Homo sapiens: one gene and its partners. Each later gene encodes a partner of the first gene's protein in a complex. Each region holds a gene or a part of one and is shown in the gene's direction. Other genes may lie near its edges.

Region 1 (7,439 bases):
CAGTTTTCACAGTCCCTCCCCTCTGACCACTAGGCTGCTTGGGGTACTTTTACAACTTACCTGCTCTGAATTAAGGCTCTCTGTGAATCTGATTCATCTGCCAATTTGCAAACAGTCAGCCCTGTAGTACGTACCTAAGTTGATTTTTAAAATACTATTTCTCATCTTAAAATAATGGAAATTGAGTGACATAAATTTCCTGGACACTTTTTAAGATCCAAAGACAATTTGCTAATTTGTCGTTACAATTAAAGAGCCCCCCAAAAGGCGTAAGAACTGGATTTTGACTTGGACTTCTGTTCCTTAGTTTCTTTAACATATTGGGGGCCGGGAGTGGTGGCTCACACCTGTAATCCCAGCACTTTGGGAGGCCGAGGCGGGCAGATCACGAGGTCAGGAGATTGAGACCATCCTGGCTAACACAGTGAAACCCCGTCTCTACAAAAAATACAAAAAAAAAAAAAAAAAATTAGCCGGGTATGGTGGCGGGCGCCTGTAGTCCCAGCTACTCAGGAGGCTGAGGTAGGAGAATGGCATGAACCCAGGAGGCAGAGCTTGCAGTGAGCCGAGATCGCACTACACTGCACTCCAGCCTGGGCGACAGAGCAAGATTCCATCTCAAAAAAAAAAAGAAAAAGATATTGGGAAAACTCACTTAAACTCTATGGGCTTCTGTACCACTAAGGCTTCTCAAATTTGATGCAAGTAATGGGAACTTGCTGTGGCTAACTTGAGCCACAGGAGAAGGATACTGCAAGACTCACAAATGCTTGAAAGTTTCGGAACAGGTTTGGAAATGGGTAAGAACCAAGGACCGGGTTGACCTGAACTGAAAGGAAATTGAGGTGCTATTAGGGACAAATATGAAATGAAGGATGAACTGTCTCTGACATCCTTTGCTTCTGTGTTTGGAGATGAGTAAGCAGGGAGTGGGTGCATATGCAAACAGGGTGGTCAGAAATGCTTTGGCCGGATGTGTGACTGAAGGCTATGTGCAGCTGAGGAAGGCTGGGCCACCACAGTAGCAGAGAGGCTGACCAATTTGGCATGCAGCAAGCAGGAAGTAGAAGGGATCTTAAGCAAGCAAAGTGTTTGGGTAGACAAGATTATGAGGAATGAGCACCAATGACATTTCCAACAAGCACTGAAAGCTTCCAAATGCTTCTAACAGTTACTGCCTGTACAAACACAGGACAGTCTTGACTATGTGAGACTGTGACAGTTTCCTCATGCCTATGAAATGAGAGACAGTACTTAGCACTGACATGAGCTTCATATTTGAAGGCAGCAAACTACTGAACCACATGTAGCTTCCGAAATCAAAAGATGCAAACTGGCAGACCACAGGTCAGATATGACATGCAGAAAAAAATTAGTTACTATCTTAGCCTAGTTTGTGCTGCTTACAGAATATCAGAGACTGGGTACTTTATAGAGAACACAAATTATTTTTCATAGTTTTAGAGGCTGGGAAGTCCAAGATCAAAGGGCCATCATCTCGTGAAGGCGTCCCTGCTGTGTCAAAACATGGTGGAAGGCATCACATGGGCAAAAGAGAGAGAGGGAAGCGGGGGCAAACTCCTTTTTATCAGGCACCCAGTCCTGTGATTCATTCATGAAGACAGTGTCCTCCTGGCCTAATCACCTCTTAAAGCTCCCACCTCTCAGCACTGTTGCACTGGAAATTATATTTCTCACACATGAACTTTGGGGAACACATTCAAACCATTACAGTTACCAAAGATAAAAATGCAGATTTCAGATTTCTCTTGGGGAAGAAAAAAGGCTCTGGCAATACCAGGGCTGTATTTCCACATGGCAACAGTTGTCTGTTGCCTTCTGTTGGGTTGTGGGCTCTCACATTGCCATACCCTCCTCATGGCCCCCTTCACTCATAACAGTACCTGCCTAGACCTCGAAGCACTAGTTTCCAACCCTGCTTGAGTTAACTACTTCCATGACAACTGTGCAAGGCCAGAGTGTGGGCAGCTACCTTGAGGGCCACCGGCATGGGCTGCCCAAGTGACCGAGGGCACTAACCTCTGCTCTCGAAACTTCTTTGGTAGGATCTCTTCACTCCTGACTTACTACTTGTAACTGCTGGAAACAACCATTTATTCTACCCCTACTAAACCACATCTGTCTTTTCTGTCAGAGCCAATCTTCAAGCATATGCTTCCTCAAAAGACTTTAATTACCAGGTAGTAGAAGCGGCAGCAAAGAGTCCCCATCTAGCATCTTCTAAAATGTAGTGGAGAAACCAACGACAACGAATCTGAGACAACCAGTTGTTTGACTTCTCTGAAAACAACCTCTAAAAAAAGCCTTCTCTCGTGAATAGCTGCAGACATGCTGGGCACTAATTGATGATGATGCCCTTTAGTGAGTCTCCTCTGCACATACCTGATTCCATTTGGATGCTGGCCCTCACATACTTCTATCTGCGAACTCCGGAACACAGAATATCATACAATGTATGATTCAATCTGGACTCTGCTGGAGCCATTCTCTACAAAGCAGACACAACTTTTTCTTGCCTAAATCCTTTCAAGTTGCTTTATTTTTATTTTTAAACTAATTACCATAAATCTAATTTATCAAGCTGCTTTTAAGATAAACTTTAAAATGCTTAGAGCAGTCTACAAATTCTTGCACTGTTTCACTCTTCCTTATCTCTCAGTCTTCATCTCCCATTGCATCTTCTCTGACTCTTTCATATGGATCTTCTTTCAATTTGTGGAAGAAGCCAAGCTTGTTCCTGCCTCAGGTCCTTGACACTTGCTGTTCACTCTCCTGGGAGACTCTTCCCCCCATCTTAGCTTTTAAATACCAGCTGGTCAGACTCCTTACCTGCCTTCCACCTTCCTCTCATTCTCCCACTCCTCGCCTTCATTTCTCAGAGTCCTCCGCTCTCTTCTTTCTATTGCTCTTAACACAATTTGTCTGTTTTCCGCTAATCTGTAAACTCTACAAGAGCACTTAACTATTTTGCATCCCACCGAATATTCGGAGTCAGCACAGACCCCGTCATAATAGAGTAGGTAAGCAATGCTTACCTGTCAAATGAATGAATGAAACACCCGATTCATCCCCCAAGCCAGCTTAATACATTAGATGATCTTATGGACTGAATAAGACATCCCTCCTTTTAAAGAATATTTTTGTTTTAGCTTCACATCAGCAAACCCCGAACGGTTCATCCTAAGATAAGCCTGGTAGAGAGGAAAGATACTAACCTTCTAGGGTCCTAAAGTGGAACTAGGAACTTATTAGATATGCACATTCTCAGGCATTATTTCCGATAGCCCAGTCAGAGAATTCTGGGGGTATGGCCCAGCAATCTGTTTTAACAAACCTTTCAGGTAATTCTGATACACACTAAAGTTTGAAAGGTTTCTTTAAGGCTTTCCAGTTTTCTTTTCTTTTTTGGAGGGATGGGGGGGGGTCTCCCCATGTTGCCCAGGCTGGTCTCGAACTCCTAGCCTCAAGCTATCCTATCCTCCCACCTCGGCCTTCCAAAGCATTGAAATTACAGGCATGACCCACTGCGGCTCGCCTCCGTTTCTAACTTAAAAAAATTTTCTTTGGAGGGGAGCCTTAATCCTTTCTATTATCCTGCTAGTAGAATCTTACTACTCCTGAGGGTAATCTTTGTCATAATCCAAAAGCCTTGAATAAAGGCCTATTTGTATAGTTATGCAGAATATATTCCTGGGAGGTTTGCCTTCCTAGGAGCACAGGTCGGCCCTGGGAGGTGGGGGTTGGGGGGCAGGGCTGCATTCTAAAGTCCTGTAACAACGCACAAGTACAACTGAATAGAACTCGGAACAAAGGCATCAGGGCCACGGTGCAAGTCTTTGTTCATCCGTTCCCCGACTGCTCACCCTGTCTGATACCGCTCTTTTCCACCCAGAAAAGCAGCCACTCAAGTTTTAAGAATGGATGTATGCCGCGGACGTTTTCGATTAGGCCGTTTTCTCTCAGGCACTGGAGGATATTCGTGGCTGCAGGAGGCGCTTCCACCCTTTCCTCAACCTAGCAAAGAAGTAACTGAAACTAACCCAAGGGTTACAACCGAAAAGCCCCTTCCAGCTTCAGAAGCAGAACTGGAAGCTCGGATAGACTTCTCCGCCTCTACACTCCTGGAAAACCCGCAGTGGATTTCACCAACTTCAGGATCGGAGCCCAGGCAGGCGAACGTACCTTATTGCGCATGCTCGCTAGCCCCTCCCGCTCGGAGCGGAAGGGGGAGCGCTGGGGGCCTGGGCCTGGCCTGGCCGGGGCGTCGGCACCGGCGGCCATCTTGGCTTCCCGGGGAAAGGCGGCGTGAGGGGAAGAAGTTGTAGGGTGGGGGCAGGAGTGAGGAGGAGGGAAGAGAGAGGGGGAGGAGGCCGCGGCGGGGCAGGGCGGGGACTGCCTGCCTGCCTGGGTTGCGGAAGTGATAGCCGCCGACCGAGCCTGCTGCTTTCTTGCTACTGCTTCGGCTTCCCGGCTACCCCCCGGACGGTGAAGGCGGCCCAGCTGTGGATGGTCAGATAGCCCTTGTCTCCCGCCGCCAATCTCTGGCCCCTAGCAGCACGGAGCAGACGGCGGCAGCAGCAGCAGCAGGCGAGGAGGAAGATGGCGGGACGGCTGCCGGCCTGTGTGGTGGACTGTGGCACGGGGTAAGGGGGCTTACGGGCGGGGGTGGGGAAACTGAGGCGGAGGAAGGAAGATGGCGGGGGAGGGAGGAGGCCGGGAAATGAATGGTGCGGCGAGGTGCCGCCGCCGGCTGTCAGTCCTAGACCCGCCGGCCAGCGAGGGGTGGGGCCCGCAGCCAGGGCCTCGCGGGTCCCCTCGTTTCTCCCTCCTGGGACTGGGGCGGGGGCGCGGGCCCGAGATTCAACCCCCAACCCTCCCAGCGGCTTTCTCCGCGCGACCCCTCCCGGCCCTTCCCCCACTACGGTGGGCAGCGCCGCCCAAAGGGCGCTGGGGACGGTCGTCTTGGGGGTGGTCCCCGGGCCCGACCCATCCGGCTTTCCTTTCCCTCCGCGCCCGTTTTTGCCAGTCGGTTTGGGGACCCAGGGGCCGAGCTCGGGGACTGGCCTGGCAGGGGAGCTAGAAAAGAGAAGCGCTCCTGGTAGGTTTGACAAGATCGCTGTGACAACATTCTGCCCAGGGTGTGGGTGGGGAAAGGGAAGAATCGGACTCTGAAAATGGGAACCTACAGTGGGGCTTTCATTTGACCACCCACCTTCTCCTTTCGACTCCTGGTCATTTCCATCTCCCTCTGCGTTTTAACCGGTGAACCAAGTCACATTTTAATTCGAGGGAGAAAGATGTCATGTGTTACTTCTGTAGCCTCAAAAAAGTCCCCCAGTGAGCAAGCGCGCTGCAACTTCCTTAGTTTTGTCAAAGCCGCTTCCTGCTTTCAGTCTTTTATACCCTTATAAGGTAGTTTTTAGTTTCCAACCTGAGCACATCTTACTAGAACTTTTAAGCAGGTTTTAAAGAGACTGAATTACCGGTGCTTGGTGTCCATTTATATGACTTAAAAAAATGTACTTATGTTTCATGGAGTGGGGGAAAGGAAGCACCCTGGAAAATAAACTAATTTAAGTTGTATTCGTTCATTCTGTGATGGTATCTTGAAGGAAGCAGGAAGGTATAGAGGTATATAGGAGGGTGTTTAAGTTGCAAATAGTTACTCGTAGATATGTAGGGTAGTTTGCGAAAATGTAGAGTGGCTTTAAAGTGTGGTCGTTCATTTTGTATTAATAGACGTTTTAGAGAGTTGTACCACACTCATAACTGCATAGAGAATAGACTACCCTTATTTTTATGTAGAATCACTGCTTCAGGATGACATATAGGAAAGTGGTTTTTTTTTCTGTGCTGATGACATCTCTCCAATTCCCAGAACACTCCCAGTTTTTTTTTTTTGAGGGGGAAGTCAGTAAGAGGTGGACTGTCAGGCTTTTTTTTTTATTATTAATTATAATTATTGATTTCATTATTGTTACTTAAAAGATTGTGTGTCCTTCACTCTTTATGTGAAATTTCTTTAATCTTCATTCTCATAACTAGCTAGTGTGGCAGTTTCTAAAATCCCAGTTAGGTAGAGAGAAACCACCAACTTCTTAATATTCTCCTAGGAAAACACTAGCCTTGGAACTTCTATGTATTTTTTTGATGAACACTTTATTTAAAAGTTTTTCCTTAATTCAGTCTCATTTCTCTGAACCAATAATTTTTTTTATTTCTCCCTTCTTAGTCTAATTGGTGAGTATTTTTATGTCTAGGTTCAGTTTTAAAATTAGATTTGGCCTGAGTCAGTAGGATAGGACTTTTCAAATGTGTTTTGTTAAAGTGACGAATATTGCTACATAATTAATGCTTTAGAAATTACTGCGTTTTCAAAAAAATAGTGTAAATAATTGTGGCCCTGAGAAATAATATGGTAACATCTCAAGTAGTATGTTACTTTTCTAATCTCCATTTTCCCCCTTTTGAAATAGTTTCGAATTAGTATACAAGATGTTTCATTGAGATAAACTGTCCTTAAGTGACCTCCTTTCCTAAAGGGCAACCTTGAATTTAAAACATGCTGAATGACCAGTAGGATCGGGAAGAGGGGTTCAATTTAACCTAGGCTATTTCTGTTTTAAAATTACGATTATCACAATAGTGTATTTTTAAGTTATTACATTGGTTTCTCCAATAAGGAGAGGTTATTAACTGCACATTGATGATTTGAATGGAACTGATTAGGAGTCCCCTTGCCACCTCACTCTCTTTTACCATTTGTCACAATCTGAAATTCCCCCTTTAGAGTTTCAGTTATTTTGGTTCTCAAAAGCCTTTTTGGTCTTACAAGTTTCCAGTGGTGCCTCCTGGGAAGTTACACCTTCAGCTTTATTTGCACATGGAGGATAAGTCCTTGAGGTTGAGGACCCTGAGATAAACATCTCTAAGTATGGCCTTAACAGGGAGCTTTTACATTTCAAAATTCTGTGGTCCCCGAATGCAAATTGTGCACCTGTAATTTGTCTAATTTTTTTTATGCTTTAGAGAATGCATTCAGCTCTGAGGTCTCTAAATTACAATTACTCACTTAGTTTAAGTAAAAAGTTATAACCTGAATCAGGTTGCTCATTTCATTCATTATATAAATTAGGGGAAAGGTGGCTGAAAAAAAGTGGCCATCTGTAAAACTTGATCGTCTTAGATAGGAAAGCTGTTAAGAGTTAGGAAACTTGAAACTTAAGCCCAAAACTTTTAGGGATCGTCCAGCAAAACTCAACATATGAATCACCTAGATTCAGGTCATAAAAGAGAATACTTATTTTGAAAAGAATTTGAAAAGAAATGCTTCATTCACATTGATACCCTTATCTACACACTTTTTTGGTCTGTATTGGAAAGCATTGTAAAATACAGTTGGGGCACATAGATTCCCA
Region 2 (7,025 bases), on another chromosome or scaffold:
CATGTTGACTTATAAAAAGCCAGACATCTTGTAAAAAGCAGAACTAAGAATCAGCATACAAAATGCTCTCATAAATGTGATTTTTTTTATCCCTTCCTTTAACACACACCTACCCACTGAAGGGAATATATATCTTCTCATTTTACAAATTTGGAAACAAGCTAAGAGAAGAAGAATGATGTCTTGGTCAAAAGCATAACGCCATGAAGTGGCAGAGCTGAAAAGATAGTGCTTGGGTCTTGGTTTAGCTGGGGGCTGGGTACCCTGATTTATATGATGTTTGTCTTTCTGTAGTGGAAATACTTTGGCCAGATACCAATGTGATGTCACCGAACATAGAATTGGAAGAGATGCACAGCAGCACCCCATTATTTAGTATTTCGTAATAATAACCTTAAGAACATAGACAATAGTAAAATGTAATTTTTAAAAATTAGGTTATTGCCGGGTGCAGTGGCTCACGCCTGTAATCCCAGCACTTTGGGAGGCCGGGGCGGGTGGATCATGGGGTCAGGAGTTCGAGACCAGCCTGACCAACATGGTGAAACCCTGTCTCTACTAAAAATACAAAAATTAGCTGGGCGTGGTGGCACGCACCTGTAATCCCAGCTACTTGGGAGGCTGGGGCAGGAGAATCGCTTGAACCCAGGAGGCGGAGGTTGCAGTGAGCAGAGATCGCGCCACCGCACTCCATCCTGGGCGACAGGGCAAGACTCCGTCTCAAAAAAAAAAAAAAATTAGGAAGTAGGCCAAGTGCAGTGCAGTGGCTCACATCTGTAATCCCAGCACTTTGGGAGGGCAAGGCGGGCAGATCACCTGAGGTCGGGAGTTCGAGACCAGCCTGGCGAAAATGGAGAAACATCGTCTCTACCAAAAATACAAAATTAGCTGGGCGTGGTGGCTTATCCCTATAATCCCAGCTACTCAGGAGGCTGAGGCAGGAGAATCACTTGAACCCGGGAGGCGGAGGTTGCAGTGGGCCAAGGTCATGTCATTGCACTCCAGCCTGGGCAACAAGAGCCAAACTCTGTCTCAAAAAAAAAAAAAAAAATTAGGAAGTAGCCAGGTGTGGTGGCTCACACCTGTAGTCCCAGCCCTTTGGGAGGCTGAGGCAGGAGGAACACTTGAGCTTAGGAGTTTGAGATCATCTTAGGCAACATGGTGAGACTCCTTCTCAAAAAAAAAAAAAGAAGTGATGAATACTTAAGCATCATTGTTTTTAACATTATTTACTTTTTTTTTTTTTTTGAGACAGTCTTGCTCTGTTGCCCAGGCTGGAGTGCAGTGGCACGATCTCGGCTCACTGCAGCCTTCGCCTCCTGGGTTCAAGTGATTCTCCAGCTTAGCCTCCCACATGGCTGGGACTACAGGCGCACGCCGCCACGCCTGGCTAATTTTTTATATTTTAGTAGAGATGGGGTTTCACTGTGTTGCCCAGGCTGGTTGCAAACTCCTGAGCTCAGGCAATCTGCCTGCCTCAGCCTCCCAAAGTGCTGGGATTACAGGCATGAGCCACCACGTCCAGCCAACATCATTTACTTAATTGTAAGTTTATATAATTTGATTTTTGAGAAGAGCTGTGTTTAACAACCAGCTTGAAAAATGCCTCAAAATTTAACAATTGGTTTTCTTGAGCCAGAAAGAACCAGCCCTCGCACCTCAATGCTGCTATCCCTTCTCCCTCCCCTAATTAATCTTGGGTGGTTTACTCTTTTTTTCCTTTAAGGGAAGGTTGTTTGCCACAGTGACATTTGCTCTTTTTCTGCTTCTGTGTTCTTCCTGGGCTTGCCATTACAGGCTTACCACTCTTCTCTCATGGATCCTGATACCAAACTCATCGGAAACATGGCACTGTTGCCTATCAGAAGTCAATTCAAAGGACCTGCCCCCAGAGAGAGTAAGTCTAAACCCATTATTTTCAAATTTTGGTACGAAATGCCTAACAATCTTCTGAAATGATCAAATCAGAAAAATTCTTAGCTCAGTCTTCTCTCTCAAATTGCCCTTGTACTTTGCTTGGTAGATACTGTGGTCTAGACCTTTCAAGATAGTGGTTATATGTTGCATTTAATAGGAAATTGTATTATTTCTTCTGACTTCTCCAGGAAACTCTTTTGAGAAAATGGAGGAAATGTGCTTAATTCTGGACACTGTTTATCAGTTCTTTCAAACAAATCTAATGCTGTTACGTCTAGAATGCCACATGCCCATCCTTTCTGTCATCAACCTGGAAAAGAACAACAACAAATATTTTAACCTCTTCCTCGTCTAAATCTACTTCCTTTATTCATTCTTCAAGATCTTCATTTTTAGCAATACCTCAATCTTAAATCTGAAGTGTACTATGTAACATTACTTACGTCTATTCCCGCTTTTCTGAATTTTATTTCAGAAAGCCGCAATATTTTTCAGACACTGTCTGAGACTCTTCTGATGCTTTCTGAGATGTTCTCCCAACAGTATAATTTGTATTATGTTAGACATGGTTTCCCTGTACCCTGCAAGGGTCTGAACTGAATTCCATTCATGGTTTCCAAGACCATTATTATAATTACCAATTTGGTACTTATCCAGTCCCCATTTCTCTGCCAGACTGTTTGACTTGACCTTTTTTAAACTTAATTTTGTTTTCAACACCATTTGAAAGCTCAGTAAACTTAATGCATATGGTGAGTCACCACAGTCTCTACTTGATTCTGAGGAAAAGGAACAAGGAAGAAGACAGCCTGGGAAAGAAGAAAAATAACATAAAAGAAAATCACAAGGCTGGGTGCGGTGGCTCACACTTGTAATCCCAGCACTTTGGAAGGCCAAGGCAAGTGGATCACTTAAGGTCAGGAGTTCGAGACCAGCCTGGCAAACATGGCGAAACCCCAACTCTACTAAAAATACAAAAATTAGCTAGGCATGGTGGTGGGCACCTGTGATCCCAGCTACTCAGGAGGCTGAGACAGGAGAATCGCTTGAACACAGAGGGTGGAGGTTGCAGTGAGCCAAGATTGCACCACTGCACTCCAGCCTGGGTGACAGAGTGAGACTTCATCTCAAAAAAAAAAAAAAATTTTTTTTCACTGCAAAGGCCAGGCGTGATGGCTCACACCTATAATCCCAGCACTTTGAGAGGTCGAGGTGGGTGGATCACCTGAGTTCAGGAGTTCAAGACCAGCGTAACCAACATGGAGAAACCCCATCTCAACTAAAAATACAAACAATCAGCCGGGCATGGTGGCGCATGCCTGTAATCCCAACTACTTGGGAGACTGAGGCAGGAGAATTGCTTGAACCTGGGAGGTGGAGGTTGCAGTGTGCCGAGATCATGTCATTGCACTCCAGCCTAGGCAACGAGCAAAACTCTGTTTCAAAAGAAAAAAAAAAAAAACCTGAATTGGAATGGAGGCCTGTGCTGTGAGCTAAATAACAGCATTAATCACACTAATTCATTTATATTCAACAAATATCTGTAGAATGCCTTTTATGTGCCAAGTATTCTTCTAATTTCAGAATCCTTTGGCCTTTGCCCCCTCCTGTCATTGCATTTAGAAGAACTAGCTGGTTTTTGGAAACAATATTGAGTCCTCCAAGACAGTTTTCTTTCACAGATAAGAAAACAGATTGCAGCCAGGCATAGTGGCTCACGCCTGTAATCCCAGCACTTTGGGAGGCTGAGGCGGGCAGATTGCCTCAGGTCAGGAGTTTGAGACCAGCCTGGCCAACATGGTGAAACTCTGTCTCTACCAAAAATACCAAAATTAGCTAGCTGTGGTGGCAGGCACCTGTAGTCCCAGCTACATGGGAGGCTGAGACAGGAGAATCACTTGAACTCAGGAGGCGGAGGTTGCACTGGGCCTAGATTGTGCCATGGCACTCCAGCCTGGGCGACAAAGTGAGACTTGATCTCGAAAAAATAAATAAATAAAAAATAGGGCGTGGCGCGGTGGCTCACGCCTGTAATCCCAGTACTTTAGCACTTTGGGAGGCCAAGACGGGTGGATCACGAGGTCAGGAGATCGAGACCATCCTGGCTAACACGGTGAAACCCCATCTCTACTAAAAATACAAAAAATTAGCCAAGCGTGGTGGCGGGCTCCTGTAGTCCCAGGTACTCGGGAGGCTGAGGCAGGAGAATGGCGTGAACCCAGGAGGCAGAGCTTGCAGTGAGCCAAGATTGCACCACTGCACTCCAGCCTGGGCAACAGAGCGAGACTCCATCTCAAAAAAAAAAAAAGTAAATTGCAAGGAACACAAGTCTAGAGTTAGAGTTCTGTTGAAATTCTTCCACAGGGCAATGAGCTGGGATGAAGACAACTGAATTGCAGAGTATGAAAGCTTCAAGATTACTTTGCATTTCTGCTGTGCGAGAACGTTAACAGTCATAGACAAGAAGTATAAGTAACTGTCTCAGCACTGCTGAAACCAACTGCCAGATATCAAGACCCTGGGATTTTGACCTTTTTAAAATAAGAAGAAGAAAAACAAAAAATTGCCAAACAAATTGTGTCATGAGATCTGTCTTTGTCAAGACAGTATTTCTGGCTTTTGTCCGTCTAGAGCTACCTACAACAGCTTGTACAAGTATATTTTAAGTCATAGTTTTCATAAAAAGAAAGATGTGTATCTGAACCTCAACATGTTCTAAATAATTGAGTTTTTTTCTGAAACTATAATATGTAAATTCAAATAAAATTATATTGAATACTTTTTATTTTATTTAATTATATATATTTTTTATTATTACTTTTTTGAGATGGAGTCTCGCTCTGTCACCCAGGCTTGAGTTTGGTGGAATGATCTCAGCTCACTGCAACCTCTGCCTCCTGGGTTCAAGCAATTCTCCTGCCTCAGCCCCCTGAGTAGCTGGGATTACAGGCACGTACCACCATGCCCGGCTAGTTTTTGTATTTTTAGTAGAGACAGGGTTTCTCCATGTTGGCCAGGCTGGTCTCGAACTCCTGACCTCAGGCAATCCATCCGCCTCAGCCTCCCAAAGTGCTGGGACTACAGGCGTGAGCCACTGCGCCCGACTGAATACTTTTTATTTTTAGGAAGCAGTTAAAGTTAGTCTATGTCTCAGTGTTTTTTTATAAATGCATTGAGAGACGTCTTGAATAATGTTCACCAAATGCTAATGGTAGTTATTTTTGGGGAAATGGGAATTAAGGTGACAATTAAAAATTTTTTTTTTGCCTGGTGCTGTGGCTTATGCCTGTAATCCTAGCTACTCAGGAGGCAGGAGGATCACTTGAGGCCAGGAGTTTGAGACCAGCCTAGGCAACATAGTGAGACTGCATCTCTAAAAAAAACTTTTTTTTTTTTTTTGGAGACAGAGTTTTGATCTCGTTGCCCAGGCTGGAGTGCAATGGTGCAATCTTGGCTCACTGCATCCTCCACCCGCGAGTTCAAGCGATTCTCCTGCCTTAGCCTCCCGAATAGCTGGGATTACAGGTGCCTGCCACCATGCTTGGCTAATTTTTTGTATTTTTAGTAGAGGCGCAGTTTCACCATGTTGGCCAGGCTGCTCTCAAACTCCTGACCTCAGGTGATCCACCCGTCTCGGCCTCCCAAAGTGTTGGGATTACAGGCGTGAGTCACTGTGCCCAGCCATCTTTAAAAACTTTTCTTTAAAAATTTTATTTAATTTTTAAAGAAAAAAATTAGCCAGGCCTCATGGTGCATGCCTGTAGTCCCGGCTACCTGGGAAGCTGAAGCAGGAGGATCACTTGCGCTCAGGAATTCAAGTCTGTGGTGAGTTATAATTGTACCACTGCACTCCAGCCCGGGTAACAGAGCAAGACCTCTCTCTAAAAAATAAAACTGTTTTGATTGAATTTCATTTTCTAATGAGCATGTATAAGTTTTACGAAAACAATAAAGCTGTAAAAATAAACCATGTACTACTTTTCTATAAATATTTTCTGAAAATCCGGGGGTGGTGGCTCACTCCTGTAATCCCAGCACTTTGGGAGGCTGAGGCAGGCAGATCACGAGGTCAGGAGTTCGAGACCAGCCTGACCAACAAGGTGAAACCCCATTTCTACTAAAAATACAAAAATTAGCCAGGCCTGGTGGTACATGCGTATAATCCCAGCTACTTGGGAGGCTGAGGCAGGAGAATCGCTTGAACCCGGGAGGCAGAGTGAGCCGAGATCATGCCATTTCACTCCAGTCTGGGCGACGGAGCAAGACTCCGTCTCAAAAAAAAAAAATTTGGCCGGGCACGGTGGCTTATGCCTGTGATCCCAGCACGTTGGGAGGCCGAGATGGGCGGATCACGAGGTCAGGAGATCAAGACCATCCTGGCTAACACGGTGAAACCCCGTCTTTACTAAAAATACAAAAAATATAGCTGAGCATGGTGGCAGGTGCCTATAGCCCCAGCTACTTGGGAGGCTGAGGCAGGAGAATGCCGTGAACCCGGGAGGCGGAGCTTGCAGTGAGCCAAGATCGCGCCACTGCACTCCAGCCTGGGCGACAGAGTGAAACTCTGTCTCAAAAAAAAAAACAAAGGCTGGGCACGGTGGCTCATGCCTGTAATCCCAGCACTTTGGGAGGCCGAGATGGGCGGATCACGCGGTCAGGAGATCAAGACCATCCTGGCTAACATGGTGAAACCCCATCTCTACTAAAAATACAAAAAATTAGCGGGGTGTGGTGGCAGGTGCCTGTAGCCCCAGCTACTCAGGAGGCTGAGGCAGGAGAATGGCGTGAACCCGGGAGGCAGAGCTTGCAGTGAGCCAAGATCACGCCACTGCACTCCAGCCTGGGTGACAGAGCGAGACTCTGTCTCAAAAAAAAAACAAATAAATATTTTCTAAAAACTTTGTATTTCAATAGGATCATTTTATTTTATTCAACTCCACAACTGTTGACAGTTGTATGTGTTTTCCCTTTATGGCTTTGATAGTTGTTATGTTTTGTATTTGGCTAATGTTCTCTGTGCTCCTTCCCTTGTGTCCTGCTTAGCAAAAGATACAGATATTGTGGATGAAGCCATCTATTACTTCAAGGCCAATGTCTTCTTCAAAAAC
Region 3 (7,025 bases), on another chromosome or scaffold:
GAGTTCAAGTGATTCTCTTGCCTCGACCCCCCGAGCAGCTGGGATTACAAGTGCCCACCACCAAGCCCAGATAAATTTTGTATTTTTAGTAGAGAGGGTTTTACCATGTTGGGCAGGCTGGTCTCAAACTCCTGACCTCAGGTGATCCACCTGCCTCCGCCTCCCAAAGTCTGGGATTACAGGTGTGAGCCACCGCACCCGTCGGTTGATAGGTCTTTTCTAATATTAATAATTACGTAGCATCTCAACATGTTAATGTCATAATTTACTCTTTCCATATTGTCACCTGGGTTTTTCCACACTGTCACCATTATAAAGACAGCTATTATAAACATGTTTGCTTTATTTTTTAGATGAGGTTTCACTCTGTCACCCAGGCTGGAGTACAGTGACGAGATCTCGGCTCACTGCAACCTCCACCTTCCCAGCTCAAGGAATCCTCCAGCCTCAGCCCCTCAGATAGCCAGGACTACAGGCGTACAGCATCACATCCCGCTAATTTTTTTTTTTTTTTTGGTAGTTTTTATAGACACAGGGTTTTGCCATGTTGCCCAGGCTGGTCTCCGAACTCCTGGACTCAAGTGATCCACCTGGCTTGGCCTCCCAAAATGGTGGGATTACAGGCGTGAGCCATGGCACCCCACCTGTTTGCTTTTAAAAAAGAAAAATGGGGCCAGGCGTGGTGGCTCACACCTGTAATCCCAGCACTTTGGGAGGCCGAGGCGGGTGGATCACAAGGTCAGGAGTTCGAGACCAGCCTGTCCAACATGGTGAAACCCCATCTCTACTAAAAACAAAAACAAAAATTAGCTGGGCGTGGTGGTGGGCACCTGTAGTTCCACCTACTGGGGAGGCTGAGACAGGAGAATTGCTTGAACCTGGGAGGCGGAGGTTGCAGTGAGCCGAGAATGCACCACTACACTCCAGCCTGGGCGACAGAATGAGACTACATCTCAAAAATAAAAAAGAAAAAGAAAGAAAAATGTGTTGCTGTTTTCTTAGGACCAAATGGGTGTATGTGACCAAAGAATGTTAATTTTCTTTTTCTTTTTTTTTTTTTTTTTTTTGAGATGGAGTCTTGCTCTGTCCTCCAGGCTGGAGTGCAGTGGCGCAATCTCGGCTCACTGCAAGCTCCGCCTTCCGGGTTCACGCCATTCTCTTGCCTCAGCCTCCCGAGTAGCTGGGACTACAGGCGCCCGCCACCACGCCCGGCTTAATTTTTTGTATTTTTAGTAGAGACGGGGTTTCACCGTTTTAGCCAGGATGGTCTCGATCTCCTGACCTCGTGATCCACCCACCTCGGCCTCCCAAAGTGCTGGGAGTATAGGCGTGAGCCACCACACCTGGCCAGAATGCTAATTTTCAAGTTCCTGTTAGTGTTATTCTGTTCTATTAATATTTGGTCCCACCCACTTGTTGAATTGAGTGCCCTTCAGAAGAATTAAACCAATTAGCAACAAATGACAATTTCTCCACAGCTCTGCTAGCATTGAATTTTGTGTGTTTTTGTTTTGTTTGGATGACTAACCGGTGCTTTAATGGTACCTTACGATTGTTTTCATGTGTGTTTCTTGACTTCACTCTGCGTGGTTGGTAAGACTTCAAGAGCAGAGCTGGAGAGGGAAGGATAGGGGTAGGAAGGGCTCTGACCCAGCATAGGAAGTTGAGTAACCGCTTAGCACGGTGCAAATTAGCCTGCTGGCTGCTCTATCCAAGAACTGCCTGAGCTGGGTGGGGACTTCCCAGAGCGCCTGTAATGCTGAGATCTTTCCTCCAGGCAACTCCTCCTTGGTTTAGCCTCTGATACAGCCAAACCTCTGGATTCAGGGAAACCTAAGGAAGCCAGGCAAGAAGGGTCCCGCAGCCTGTGCCTAGTCTAGCCCCAGCCTCATCTGGATTAAGATGGGAGGGAAATATTGGCTGAGGGCACCCAGCCAGTATGAAGACAGCTAGAATGTAAACCCAGCACAGTAAGGGAGAGAGTATCAAGGCCCAGGACTTTAGAGTGCCTCACCACCACCACCCCGCCGCTGGGCAGCCTGAGGCTTTCTTTGCCTGGCACCACCATGCCTGGCTAATTTTTTTTTTTTTTTTCCAAGTGGAGACGGGGTTTTGCCATGTTGGCCAGGATGGTCTCAAACTCCTGACCTCAAGTGATCCACCCACCTCGGCCTCCGAAAGTGCTGGGATTACAGGCGTGAGCCACTGTGCCCGGCTATCCCCTCCTCTCTCTGGTTTCTTAACATCAAACAGGCCCACAGTGCTGGCTCACAGGGCCACAGTGATAGTGGGTTGGTGTCCTGGATCCCTCCCCCAGGAGCCATCACTGAGACCTTATGCTGTCAACACTGGTGGGTGAAGCAGCCCTCGTATTTTTCTCCTGAGACATCCAGAGCAGGGTAATTGGCAGGCGGGGGTGAGCACACGCTGGCTCACGCAGGCTTGGTAGGTGAGAGGTTTTCCTGAGGATGATGAAGTTGGAGTGTCCCCGGCTAGAATCCCTGAGGCAGGAGACTGGAGCCCTGTGGCAGCATTGGCTGAGAGAAGCCACTCCCTTTTTGCTCTCCCACTTCCTCACTGGTAAGATGTGGGGGTTGGGGAGTTATCGCAGAGGCGCTTTGGGTTTCAGCTGCTTTGCAGAAGTTATGGAAAAAGGGAAATGAGTCTTCCTGTCTCTCGCCCCCTTAACACTTCTTTGCCCCATTTAAGGGGTTTGTTCAACAGACTAGGAAGTATTTCTGCTAATTCATGCTGAAGTGTGATTGGCTGATAGGTGTGGTCTCAACCTCCCTCCTCTGCCAGTCACTAGTGTACCACTGTGGCCATCTTTTCCAGCCCCTCCTCTGCCCCTTGAGTATGTCTAGGTCCTAGAAACAGTGGTCAGGGCTCTTCAAGTCCTCTCGGTTGCCCTTGCCCACTGGCACACGTGGGGGTTGCTGTCTTCAGCAGAGCCAGCCACTCCGTCTTGACAGCCAGGGCAGAGATGTGGCTGGGCACACAGCAAGAATGTGACCACTGATGCTGGGATGTCAGAGTCTGTGCATCAACCCAGGGTTCTGAGTCTGGGCTCTCCCACCCTCATCCCCGGAGGTTCCTTCAGTCTGGGCCTCCTGGGGCTGAAAGGGAGGGAAAAATTGGCCTCAGCTGGAGTCCTGGGGCCAACCAGAGCCTGGGTGGAGTGTGAAAGTGGGCTTCTGGCCTTCACCCTGCCCCTGCCCTGCTGGTGACCTTGGACCATGGGGGTTGTCGGGGTGTAGATGAGCACCGTGAATCAGTCACAGGCCTTGAGCTTCTCTCTGCACAGTGCTGGCATCAGATGTGGGTGGTGATGTCCCAGCCTGGGAACACAGGAAACGCTCAGGGAAACCCCCATCAGACCTGCTGACATGGCTGAGGGCGCTGAGATGGTGCTTCCGGGGCCCTCACCTTACACAAAGAGGCCTTATAAGGAGAGAGAGGCTGCAGAGGCAGCCCCAGTGGGTGCCGGGTGCTTGTTCTGGGTAAGGCTGCCCACACGTGCAAAGTGTGCTTGTGGACACAGTGCGCTTGCGTGTGTGCAAGGCTGAACATACATGTGTGCAGGCCTGCAGTGTGCCTGTGTGTGAGGCTCAACACGTGCATGTGGGGAGTATGGTCATGTGTGCAAGGCTAAACATGTGCTTAAAGTGTGGGGAGGTGCAGTGTGCATGTGTGTGTGCAAGGCTTAACATGCAAAGTGTGCTTGTGTGTGTGAGGCTGAACACGCATGTGTTTGTGTGCGTGGCCTGACCCTGCGCTGCGTGTGTCTACTTGCTCAGCAAATGCTGACTGGGGACCCACCGGGGTCCTGTTCTAAGCATGGAGGAAACATGAGGTCCCTGCCCCGTGCATGTACACATGTGCATGTGTGTGTGTCCTGTGCTGCTCCAGGAATCTTCCAGGACATCCTGATACAAGTGAAAGCAAGCGGTTTGGATCTGGAGTGAGCAGGAGGTGGACAGGGCCTTCCAGGCAGTGAGCGCAGGGGGCTTTGTGTTGTGACCTCGGGCAGGCTGGTCACTGAGCCCTGTGGGGCCAAACTGCAGCCCCAGGCAAAGGTCGTTCTGCCTTTCCCTTGTGCCTGGGCCCAGATGCAGTGCAGGATGGGCCGGCCCCTGGGCAGGGCAGTGACGGGGCAGCCACCGGCCTCCTGGGGCATTCAGGGTTCCCAGTCCTGGTTGGCTCCCAGCCCAGGCCCTGAGACCCAACACAAAACTGCCAGTCTGGTGAGGGAGGCAGCCACATTATCTAATGGCTGTCACTGGTGACTCTGGGCAGGTGGCCTCAGCCCCCACATCTGTCATCTGGAGCTGACCTGGAGCCTGGCATCCCTCCCCAAGTGCAGCCAGGCCTCCCTGAAAGTCCAGGGCTGGTGGGAGTGTTGAAGTCAAGAATGTATACAGAGCACCTGGCCAGGCGCGGTGGCTCATGCCTGTAATTCCAGCACTTTAGGAGGCCGAGGCGGGCGGATCACTTGAGGTCAGGAGTTCAAGACCAGCCTGGCCAACATGGTGAAACCCTGTCTCTACTAAAAATATAAAAATTAGGCATGGTGGTGCGCACCTGTAATCCCAGCTACTCAGGAGGCGGAGGTTGGAGTGAGCCAAGACTGCGACATTGCACTCCAGGCTGGGCAACAGAGTGAGACTTCATCTCGAAAAAAAAAAAAAAAAAGGATACTTTTTTTTCTAGAGCTGGCAAGGAGGGAGTATCCAGAAAGTGCTGGATGGTACTAGTTAATACATTTTATTTTAGAGACAGGGTCTGGCTCTGTCACACAGTGGTACAATCATAGCTCACTGCAGCCTCAAACTCCTAGGCTAAGCAATCCTCCTGCCTCAGCTTCCTGAATACCTAAGAATACAGATGTGCACCACCACACCTGCAAATTTTTTTATTTAAATTTTTTGTAGAGATAGGGTCTCACTGTATCGCCCATGCTTGTCTTGAACTTCTGGCCTGAAGCAATCCTCCTGCCTAGGCCTCCCAAAGTACTGGGGTTACAGGCATGAGCCACTGCGCCTGGCCCTATTTAATAAAATTATTTATTTATTTATTATTTTTAAGTTATTTTTTCACACACATTCATTCCTAACCTTTTTTTTTTTTTTTTTTTTGAGACAGAGTCTTGCTCTGTTGCCCAGGCTGGAGTGCAGTGGTGTGATTTTGGCTCACTGCGACCTCTGCCTCTCAGGTTCAACAGATTCTCCTGCTTCAGCCTCCCAAGTAGCTGGGACTACAGGTGTGCGCCACCACGCCCAGCTAATTTTTGTATTTTTAGTAGAGACAGTCTTTCACCATGTTGGCCAGGCTGGTCTTGAACTCCTGACCTCAGGTGATCCGCCCGCCTCGGCCTCCCAAAGTGCTGGGATTACAGGCATGAGCCACCGTGCCTGGCCTCATTCCTAACCTATGTAATGATAATATTTTTGAGGGCTGGGTAGGGTGGCGTGAGCCTGTAGTCCCAGCTACTTGGGAAGCAGAGGCAGGAGGATCACTTGAGCCTGGGAAGTCGAGGCTGCAGTGAGCTGTGATCACACCACTGCACTCCAGCCTGGGCAACAGAGCGAGACCCTTTCTCAAATATACACACACACACACGTTTCTGAGAACGTACTCTGTTGGTCACTAATGGCAATGAAAAATTTGTTCAGCGGATATTTCTTGAGCACCTACTATGTGCTAAGCATTTAAGCAGTGGAAATAGAAACGAGAACAAGATAGAACAAAAATGTGTCTCTGCCAAGCTGGTTCTATTCCAGCAGGGGAGGAAGGCAGCGGGCCAGATCAGTGAGTGCATGTCTGATGGTGACTGCTGAGAAAATTTAATCGGAAATAGGGAATTACGAAGTGCCGGACCGTGGAAGGTGCTGCAGTTTCCAGGGAAGGCCTCCCCAAAAGTTGACATTTGAGTACAGACTTGAGTGGCAGCACCAGAGCGAGAGCCGTGTGTGCCGGTATCTGGGGGAAGAGTGTCACAGGCCTAGGGAACAGCCAGCACGGAAGCCCGAGGCAGGTGCATGCCTGTGTGCCCCAGGATTGGCCTCTGGTTGGCTGGGGAGGCCTGCTCCTCAAAGGGCTGGTATATCACATCCATCACAGGCTAAGAGTAACCGCCTCGTGGTTCCTCCTCATAGAGGCCAGGTGCGGTGTGTCATCTGCTTCCAGCTCTCAGCATCTCTGCTGGGAGGCAGGATTCCTGTTCCCATTTTACAGATGAGAAAACTGAGGTTAAAAGAAGGCAGGTGATGTGTCCCGGGGCATGTGGCTGGGCAAGCAGTGCCACTGGGCTCCTCCACTTCCAGGTCCCTGTGATGCTGGGAAACTGAGTCACGGAGGCGGGGAGAGATGTGTTTGAGGAATTGGGCTGAGACCGTGATCTCACCCCCGTCAGGCCTGGTGGGCTCCTTTGACACTCAGCGGCAGGTGGAGGAGGCTAGGGACAGGCTGGCAGGGGCTGAGCTGGGCTGACGGGAGGATGAGTCGCTGCCCTCTGCCAGGGTTCCCCTTCAGTGCTGGGGCTAGTCTAGAGGGCTGCAGTCAAACATCTCCCTCGTTCTGGCCGAGTGTAGTGGCTCACACCTGTAATCCCAAATACTTGGCAGGTGAGGAGGGAAGATCTCTTGAGCCTAGGAGCTTGAGACCAGCCTGGACAGCATTGTGAGACCCCCCTCTCTACAAACAAATCAAAAATTAGTTGGGCACAGTGGCACATGCTTGTAATCCCAGGAGTTCATGGCTGCAGTGAGCCATGATCACACCACTGCACTCCATCCTGGGCCACAGAGAGAGACCCTGTCTCAAGAAACAAAAATCTCCCTCCTTCAGTTCCCCAAGGCTGGGTCACCCTGGGGCCTCCCCAAGAGCCATCACCCAGGCCTCGCCTAGCCCTGTGCCTCCTCCCAGCCCTGGGTGCAGCCAGTGGATGTCTGGATGGAGAATGGGATGTATCTGTTAAATATCTGCCTTTGCCTCAGCCATGAGCCCCTGCAGACCGGCCACCTCCC
Region 4 (7,025 bases), on another chromosome or scaffold:
TTACAAAAATAAACAGATTGTAATTGCTTTTTAAAGATTTTTTAAAACCATACAAATACTAAATACTTATTATAGAAAGCTCAGACATATGAGAAGGTTAAAAAGATAGTGGTTTGTGGTCCCAGCACCCAGAGATAACAGTTACTACTTTGGGGCCTTGCTGTATTGTTACAGAGTTCCCTTTTGTTTTTTTAAGAATGAAATTTTATAACGTGCTTTTTCAGCTATATGCAATGTACATGAGCTTTCCTTCGCAATAAGTTTATAGCATTTTTAACACTTGTATATGGATAAGCTGCAGTGTATACATAACTAATCTTTTGTTATATATTTAGACTGACTTTTTTTTTCCTATTGTAAACCACTGAAATCAATATTTTTTGGTAAATTTTTAATTGTTCTCTTTGAGTAAATTGCTAGCAGTGAATTACTGGATCAAAGAATGCACTTTTTTTTAAGGCTTTTGGTATGCAGTATTGCCAAATTGCCCTTCAGAACAGTTGTGCAACTTACATTCTCTGCAGTCTTTTACTAATTCTTAACCTATTTACGTATTTATTTAAAATGATGCCCATAGCATCAACCCCGTTGTCCATAGCTATTCATACATCCTAGGAGCTTCAAGAATCTCAATTGAATAGTAGTAAGTAATAACTTAGGTAAATGCATAATAATTATCTAGGTAACATAATTTTTTATTGGGGAAAATTTCTTTGGTTTTTACAAGTTGTAAAGATTGTCGTTGAAATTTCATTTTTACCGTGGATGCAAAGATATTTTTCTAAATCTGGTAATTGCAGTCTTTAAACCAAAGATAACAGTAGGTGGTAGAAACATTCTGTGAAATCCTGACCAGTAGGAATGCTGGAGGTATCACTTTGTGTTGAATGGAAGGAGAAACGAATTGTTGAAAAGGTCAGTTAAGTGTTTCCTTTGCTTGGCCGGATGGGTAAGAAAATAACTGCTTTTGAAGCAGGCTTTTGCCAAAGAAAAAAGATCATTATTAATGAACATCACTATATTTCATATCTACAGTCAATTCATATAAATTACAGTCAATTTTCTTTTAAGACAGCTTGGTTTATTAAAATTTTTAAATAAAAAAGTTTTTAAGAAAAAATTACTTCTGAAGGATAATTCAAGGTGAAACTGCAAATCTGCCTCCTTGTTTTGTTGGGAATTTTTTTTTTTTTTTTTTTTTTTTGAGACGGAGTCTCACTCTATCACCCAGGTTGGAGTGCAGTGGTGCAATCTCAACTCACTGCACCCTCCGCCTCCCGGGTTTAAGCAATCCTCCTGCTTCAGCCTCCCGAGTAGCTGGGATCACAGGCACACACCACCATGCCTGGATAATTTCTGTATTTTTAGTAGAGACAGGGTTTTACCATTTTGGCCAGGCTGGTCTCGAACTCCTGACCTCAGGTGATCTGCCCATCTCGGCCTCCCAAAGTGCTGGGATTACAGCTGTGGGCCACCACACCCGGCCGTTTTGTTGGGATTTTTTTTTTTTAAGATCAAGACATAAATTTAAATGTTGTTTTAATAAATTGTTAAATTATCACATTGATCTGTTAGCAAATCCTCTCAGCTCTGCCTTCAATTATGTTAATAGTCTGTCTAGTTTCTTACCACCTCCACTGCTACTATGCTTACCACATCCAGCCTGTATTATTGCAATTGCCTCCTAATTGCTCTCCCTGCTTCTACCTTATCCCCTACTCCCACAGCTTATTTTCTGTAACATAGATGCCAAAGCAATCCTGTTAAAATGTGAGTCAGATTATGGCACTGCTCTTAAAACCTTCCAATGTCTTCTCATTTCTCTCAGTAAAAGCCAAACTCCTTACAATGCCTGTAGGCCTTACACGATCTGTCCTCCCATAACCTCTGACTTACTCACGTGCTTTTCTCCCACCAATCCACTCCAACCACATTGGGTTTTTTTCTGTTCCTGGAACACACTGAACACACACTAATAGCACTGTTCTTTCCTCTGTCTGAAACACTTTCCTCAGTTATCCCAAGCCTTCTTTCACGTCCTTCAGGTCCTTACTCAAATGTCACATTCATAGTGTAGACTTTCTGAAATTCTAAACCCTCCTCATACAGATATGTCTAAATGTTCTGTTATTTATTGACCCACCAGGACCGGGCAGGCAGCATTGTCTTGAAGGTGCTCATCTCTTTTAAAGCTAATGATATAGAAAAGGCAGTTCAATCTCTGGACAAGAATGGTGTGGATCTCCTAATGAAGTATATTTATAAAGGATTTGAGAGCCCGTCTGACAATAGCAGTGCTATGTTACTGCAATGGCATGAAAAGGTAAGTTATGAATTATAAATCTATATGACTGGTTCTTTTACAATAGGGAATGACAATGACAACCTCTCTCACCTAAATAACCATTTTGATTTGTTGTACATTTTTGTTATTACAAATAAAATGCATGAAAAGGATAGTTCATATTTATGTTTACTAGCCTTGGTCTTAAGAGATTCTGATTCCAACACTTGTGTTTATTCAACAATGATTATTAGTAATTAAACATAATCTTGAACTCTGAATTAAATCAAAACTTTGTAAAAGAAAATAAGCAATACAAATCAAGAATTCTTTCACAGTGACCAAAAGGTGAAAACAACACAAGGATCATAACAGATGAACAGCTAAATTGTGGTACATACATACAATGGAATATGATTCAACCATTAAAAGGAATGACATTCTGACACATGCTATAACATTAATAAACCTTGAAAACATACCAAGTGAAATGAGCCAAACACAAAAGAACTAATATTTTATAATTTTACTTATATGAAATAATCTAGGATAGGCAAACACAAAGGGACAGAAAGTCCTTAGAGGTTACTAGGAAGTAGGGAAAGCAAGGAATAGGGAGTTAGTGCTTAATAGGTACAGAGTTCCTCCTTGGAGTGGTAAAAAAGTTTTGGAAACAGATAGTGGTGATGGCTACAGTACATTGTGAATATAATTAATGCCAATGGATTTTACACTTAAAGATGGTTAAAATGGCAAATTTTGTGTTAGATATTTTACAACTTTTTTAAAGAATTAGGAGTTTGGAGGATCAAGAATTCTTAAATCATGTTTTTCTATTTTCATGTGTATATTTTGCAATGTAAGTAGATGCTGGTACATCATCTGTCAAAAGAGTATAAGTGATTTTGAGCTTTGGGTAAAAAACTGGATAACATGTAAATAGAACCAGTCATAAAAATATTGAGTGTTTGAAGTGTATCTGAGTGAAAACACAAACATAAGAAAAAAGCACATAGTAAAACAATAGTTCCCCCTTTTACTCTAAAATGCACCAATTTGGGTAGTAATTTATATGGCACCCTATTCATGGAACACTTTCTGTTGCCAGGTACCATACTATTAATGTTTTATTTAACCTTTACAACAACCCTGTGAAGTATATAAATATCTTTATCATCCTCAATTTACAGATGAAAAGCTAGCTTTAAAACCCAAGCAGCGTAGTTCTAGCATAGCCTCAAGATTGCAGTGAACATTGATTACTTATTATATTCCACATATTCTTCAAAGGACTTTATAAATATTAACTCATTTAATCCTCATAAAAATGGAGGGAAATGCTTGCTATTATTCCTCTTTTGTCACTGAGGAAACTGAGGCATGTGTGAAGTCTTCATTTCTTCCAAATGTCAGTCACCAGTTTTTACCAATCTTCGAAGTATTTCTGAAATCTATCTGTTCAAGCGTATCTAATGCAGCTGTTCACAGCATCTCTCCCAGTCTGTTGCCATAGCTTCCTGACTGGTTTCCCAGTTAACAGTTTTGCCTCCTTCAAATCTGTTCTCCACCCAGCCATCAAAATGATATCTTTAAAATCAAAATTGCCCTTGTCAGTCACCTGCAGGATAAAGTCAAAGTTCCCAAGTCTAGCTTCATCTTCCATGTCATTCTTCCCCTCAGGCTATAGCAATGCCAGCCTTTTTCCTGAATGCACCATATTGTTTCACACCTCCATACATTTGCTCATGATTTTCTGGTGTTAGCCTGTCACCTACTCATTCTTTTAATGTGTCATTTCCTCCATGAAGCCTTAGCTGAAACATTCCTCTATACTGTTAATCTGGGTATAAGCCTCTCCCTGGTGCTTTAATAGCACCTGCAGCACAACTCTCATTTCATACATTAGATTAAAATTACCTGTTTATATGTCTGTCTCCTCATGCTAGACCAGAAAATGCTGTATTTGTTCACTTTTGTATCCCCAGCATCTAGCACAGTACTCAGTATACAAAGGTATTCCATAAATATTTTTTGAACAGAAAGAAACCAGAGCTCAGATTCCTAATACTTGATCATTACTCTCTATTTTTCAAATTAGAGTCAGAGTTAAAGTTTCTAAGTTCTTAGCTATTAAACAATACCTTCTTTCTTTGGGAGAAAAAAAATCTGACAAAGGCTGACTAATCGAAGTGGAAGTTGGGATGGTTGATCCCAGTTTGAATTTTCTTCTGACTATGTGGTGAGAATGAGAAATGCAGAATGTCCACCTGTTTTGAGCAGGAACACTATGCTGCAGATTTTTTTTTTTTTTTTTTTTTTTTTTTTTTGAGACGGAGTCTTGCTCTGTCGCCCAGGCTGGAGTGCAGTGGCGCAATCTCGGCTCACTGCAAGCTCCGCCTCCTGGGTTCACACCATTGTCCTGCCTCAGCCTCCCGAGTAGCTGGGACTACAGGCACCCGCCACCACGCCCGGCTAATTTTTTGTATTTTTAGTAGAGACGGGGTTTCACCATGTTAGCCAGGATGGTCTTGATCTCCTGACCTCGTGATCCGCCGGCCTCGGCCTCCCAAAGTGCTGGGATTACAGGCGTGAGCCACCGCGCCCGGCCTATGCTGCAGATTTTTTAAAACATTATTTAGAATTAATGTACTAAAATGTAAACTAGTATCTCACTAGAATGTAACTTCATGAGGGCAGGGACTTTCAAGGTTTTGTTTATTACTGTAACCTCAGTGCCAAGAACAGTACCTGGTGCATAATTGGTGCTCAAGAATTTATTATTTGTTAACTAATAAATTCAGGGTCTATAGCAGTGCCCATTCCTTCTTTAAGAAAAATGTTTTACCAAATATGAGAATTGACCTTTTATTATTCTGTCAACATTTACATCTTGGTTTGTTTTTAGGCACTTGCTGCTGGAGGAGTAGGGTCCATTGTTCGTGTCTTGACTGCAAGAAAAACTGTGTAGTCTGGCAGGAAGTGGATTATCTGCCTCGGGAGTGGGAATTGCTGGTACAAAGACCAAAACAACCAAATGCCACCGCTGCCCTGTGGGTAGCATCTGTTTCTCTCAGCTTTGCCTTCTTGCTTTTTCATATCTGTAAAGAAAAAAATTACATATCAGTTGTCCTTTAATGAAAATTGGGATAATATAGAAGAAATTGTGTTAAAATAGAAGTGTTTCATCCTTTCAAAACCATTTCAGTGATGTTTATACCAATCTGTATATAGTATAATTTACATTCAAGTTTAATTGTGCAACTTTTAACCCCTGTTGGCTGGTTTTTTGTTCTGTTTTGTTTTGTATTATTTTTAACTAATACTGAGAGATTTGGTCAGAATTTGAGGCCAGTTTCCTAGCTCATTGCTAGTCAGGAAATGATATTTATAAAAAATATGAGAGACTGGCAGCTATTAACATTGCAAAACTGGACCATATTTCCCTTATTTAATAAGCAAAATATGTTTTTGGAATAAGTGGTGGGTGAATACCACTGCTAAGTTATAGCTTTGTTTTTGCTTGCCTCCTGATTATCTGTACTGTGGGTTTAAGTATGCTACTTTCTCTCAGCATCCAATAATCATGGCCCCTCAATTTATTTGTGGTCACCCAGGGTTCAGAGCAAGAAGTCTTGCTTTATACAAATGTATCCATAAAATATCAGAGCTTGTTGGGCATGAACATCAAACTTTTGTTCCACTAATATGGCTCTGTTTGGAAAAAACTGCAAATCAGAAAGAATGATTTGCAGAAAGAAAGAAAAACTATGGTGTAATTTAAACTCTGGGCAGCCTCTGAATGAAATGCTACTTTCTTTAGAAATATAATAGCTGCCTTAGACATTATGAGGTATACAACTAGTATTTAAGATACCATTTAATATGCCCCGTAAATGTCTTCAGTGTTCTTCAGGGTAGTTGGGATCTCAAAAGATTTGGTTCAGATCCAAACAAATACACATTCTGTGTTTTAGCTCAGTGTTTTCTAAAAAAAGAAACTGCCACACAGCAAAAAATTGTTTACTTTGTTGGACAAACCAAATCAGTTCTCAAAAAATGACCGGTGCTTATAAAAAGTTATAAATATCGAGTAGCTCTAAAACAAACCACCTGACCAAGAGGGAAGTGAGCTTGTGCTTAGTATTTACATTGGATGCCAGTTTTGTAATCACTGACTTATGTGCAAACTGGTGCAGAAATTCTATAAACTCTTTGCTGTTTTTGATACCTGCTTTTTGTTTCATTTTGTTTTGTTTTGTAAAAATGATAAAACTTCAGAAAATAAAATGTCAGTGTTGAATAATTTATTTTTCTCTGACTTTAACAATTATGAATGTATGGTTAATTAAGAGGAAAGGTTTTCTGCTTCTACCACCAAGTACTGTACTCTTAACAAGAACAGTTTGGTAGGGTTTTTATAAGACTATATAGATATAAGATGATAGAGAAGAGAGTCATGAATGATGTCAGAGCACTACTGAAGCCTTTGGAGTGATTCCATAGCCTTCTGGATGGCAGCTGAATACCTATATGTAGTATCACTGCCCAAAGACCTAGACTAGAAAGTGCAAAGTAGCTTAGCAGCTGCAGTCATTCACTCCCAGCCTCCAAAATTCTCTTTCTTTCACCTCAAATCTATTTCTTGTACTTACCTACTCACAGCGACTTCTGTTTGCTTTCGATCTTCACCTGACTAGATTCCCACTTTAAAACACTTCCAGGCAATTCAGGGTCCTATGGG

The links.
Region 2: the proteins of ACTR3 (region 1) and ARPC3 are in contact, whole or in part, in a cryo-EM structure (PDB 6YW6), measured with the Homo sapiens proteins. Residues at the interface, in NP_005712.1 of Homo sapiens: Phe203, Gln206, Asp210, Arg211, Glu212, Leu238, Val239, Phe242, Asn243, Ile253, Asp270, Gly272, Tyr273, Glu286, Phe287, Pro290; in NP_001265485.1 of Homo sapiens: Tyr47 (codon at 6,993), Tyr48 (codon at 6,996), Lys50 (codon at 7,002), Ala51 (codon at 7,005), Phe54, Phe55, Lys56, Lys158, Trp159, Thr161, Cys162, Phe163, Val164, Lys165, Arg166.
Region 3: ACTR3 (region 1) and ARPC1B share a complex: the UniProt entries of both Homo sapiens proteins name them as parts of the arp2/3 complex.
Region 4: ACTR3 (region 1) and ARPC5 share a complex: the UniProt entries of both Homo sapiens proteins name them as parts of the arp2/3 complex.

The regions. Positions count from the first base shown.
Region 1 is NC_000002.12:113,885,660-113,893,098, forward strand, and holds the start of ACTR3 (actin-related protein 3), read left to right. Parts: upstream 1-4,429; 5' UTR 4,430-4,620; coding exon 4,621-4,664; intron 4,665-4,938; exon of another isoform or gene 4,939-5,119; intron 5,120-5,233; exon of another isoform or gene 5,234-5,333; intron 5,334-7,439. UniProt on the Homo sapiens protein: ATP-binding component of the Arp2/3 complex, a multiprotein complex that mediates actin polymerization upon stimulation by nucleation-promoting factor (NPF).
Region 2 is NC_000012.12:110,440,324-110,447,348, reverse strand, and holds part of ARPC3 (actin-related protein 2/3 complex subunit 3), read left to right. Parts: intron 1-1,797; coding exon 1,798-1,897; intron 1,898-6,960; coding exon 6,961-7,025. UniProt on the Homo sapiens protein: Component of the Arp2/3 complex, a multiprotein complex that mediates actin polymerization upon stimulation by nucleation-promoting factor (NPF).
Region 3 is NC_000007.14:99,377,728-99,384,752, forward strand, and holds part of ARPC1B (actin-related protein 2/3 complex subunit 1B), read left to right. Parts: intron 1-7,025. UniProt on the Homo sapiens protein: Component of the Arp2/3 complex, a multiprotein complex that mediates actin polymerization upon stimulation by nucleation-promoting factor (NPF).
Region 4 is NC_000001.11:183,625,759-183,632,783, reverse strand, and holds part of ARPC5 (actin-related protein 2/3 complex subunit 5), read left to right. Parts: intron 1-2,146; coding exon 2,147-2,323; intron 2,324-5,189; coding exon 5,190-5,252; 3' UTR 5,253-7,025. UniProt on the Homo sapiens protein: Component of the Arp2/3 complex, a multiprotein complex that mediates actin polymerization upon stimulation by nucleation-promoting factor (NPF).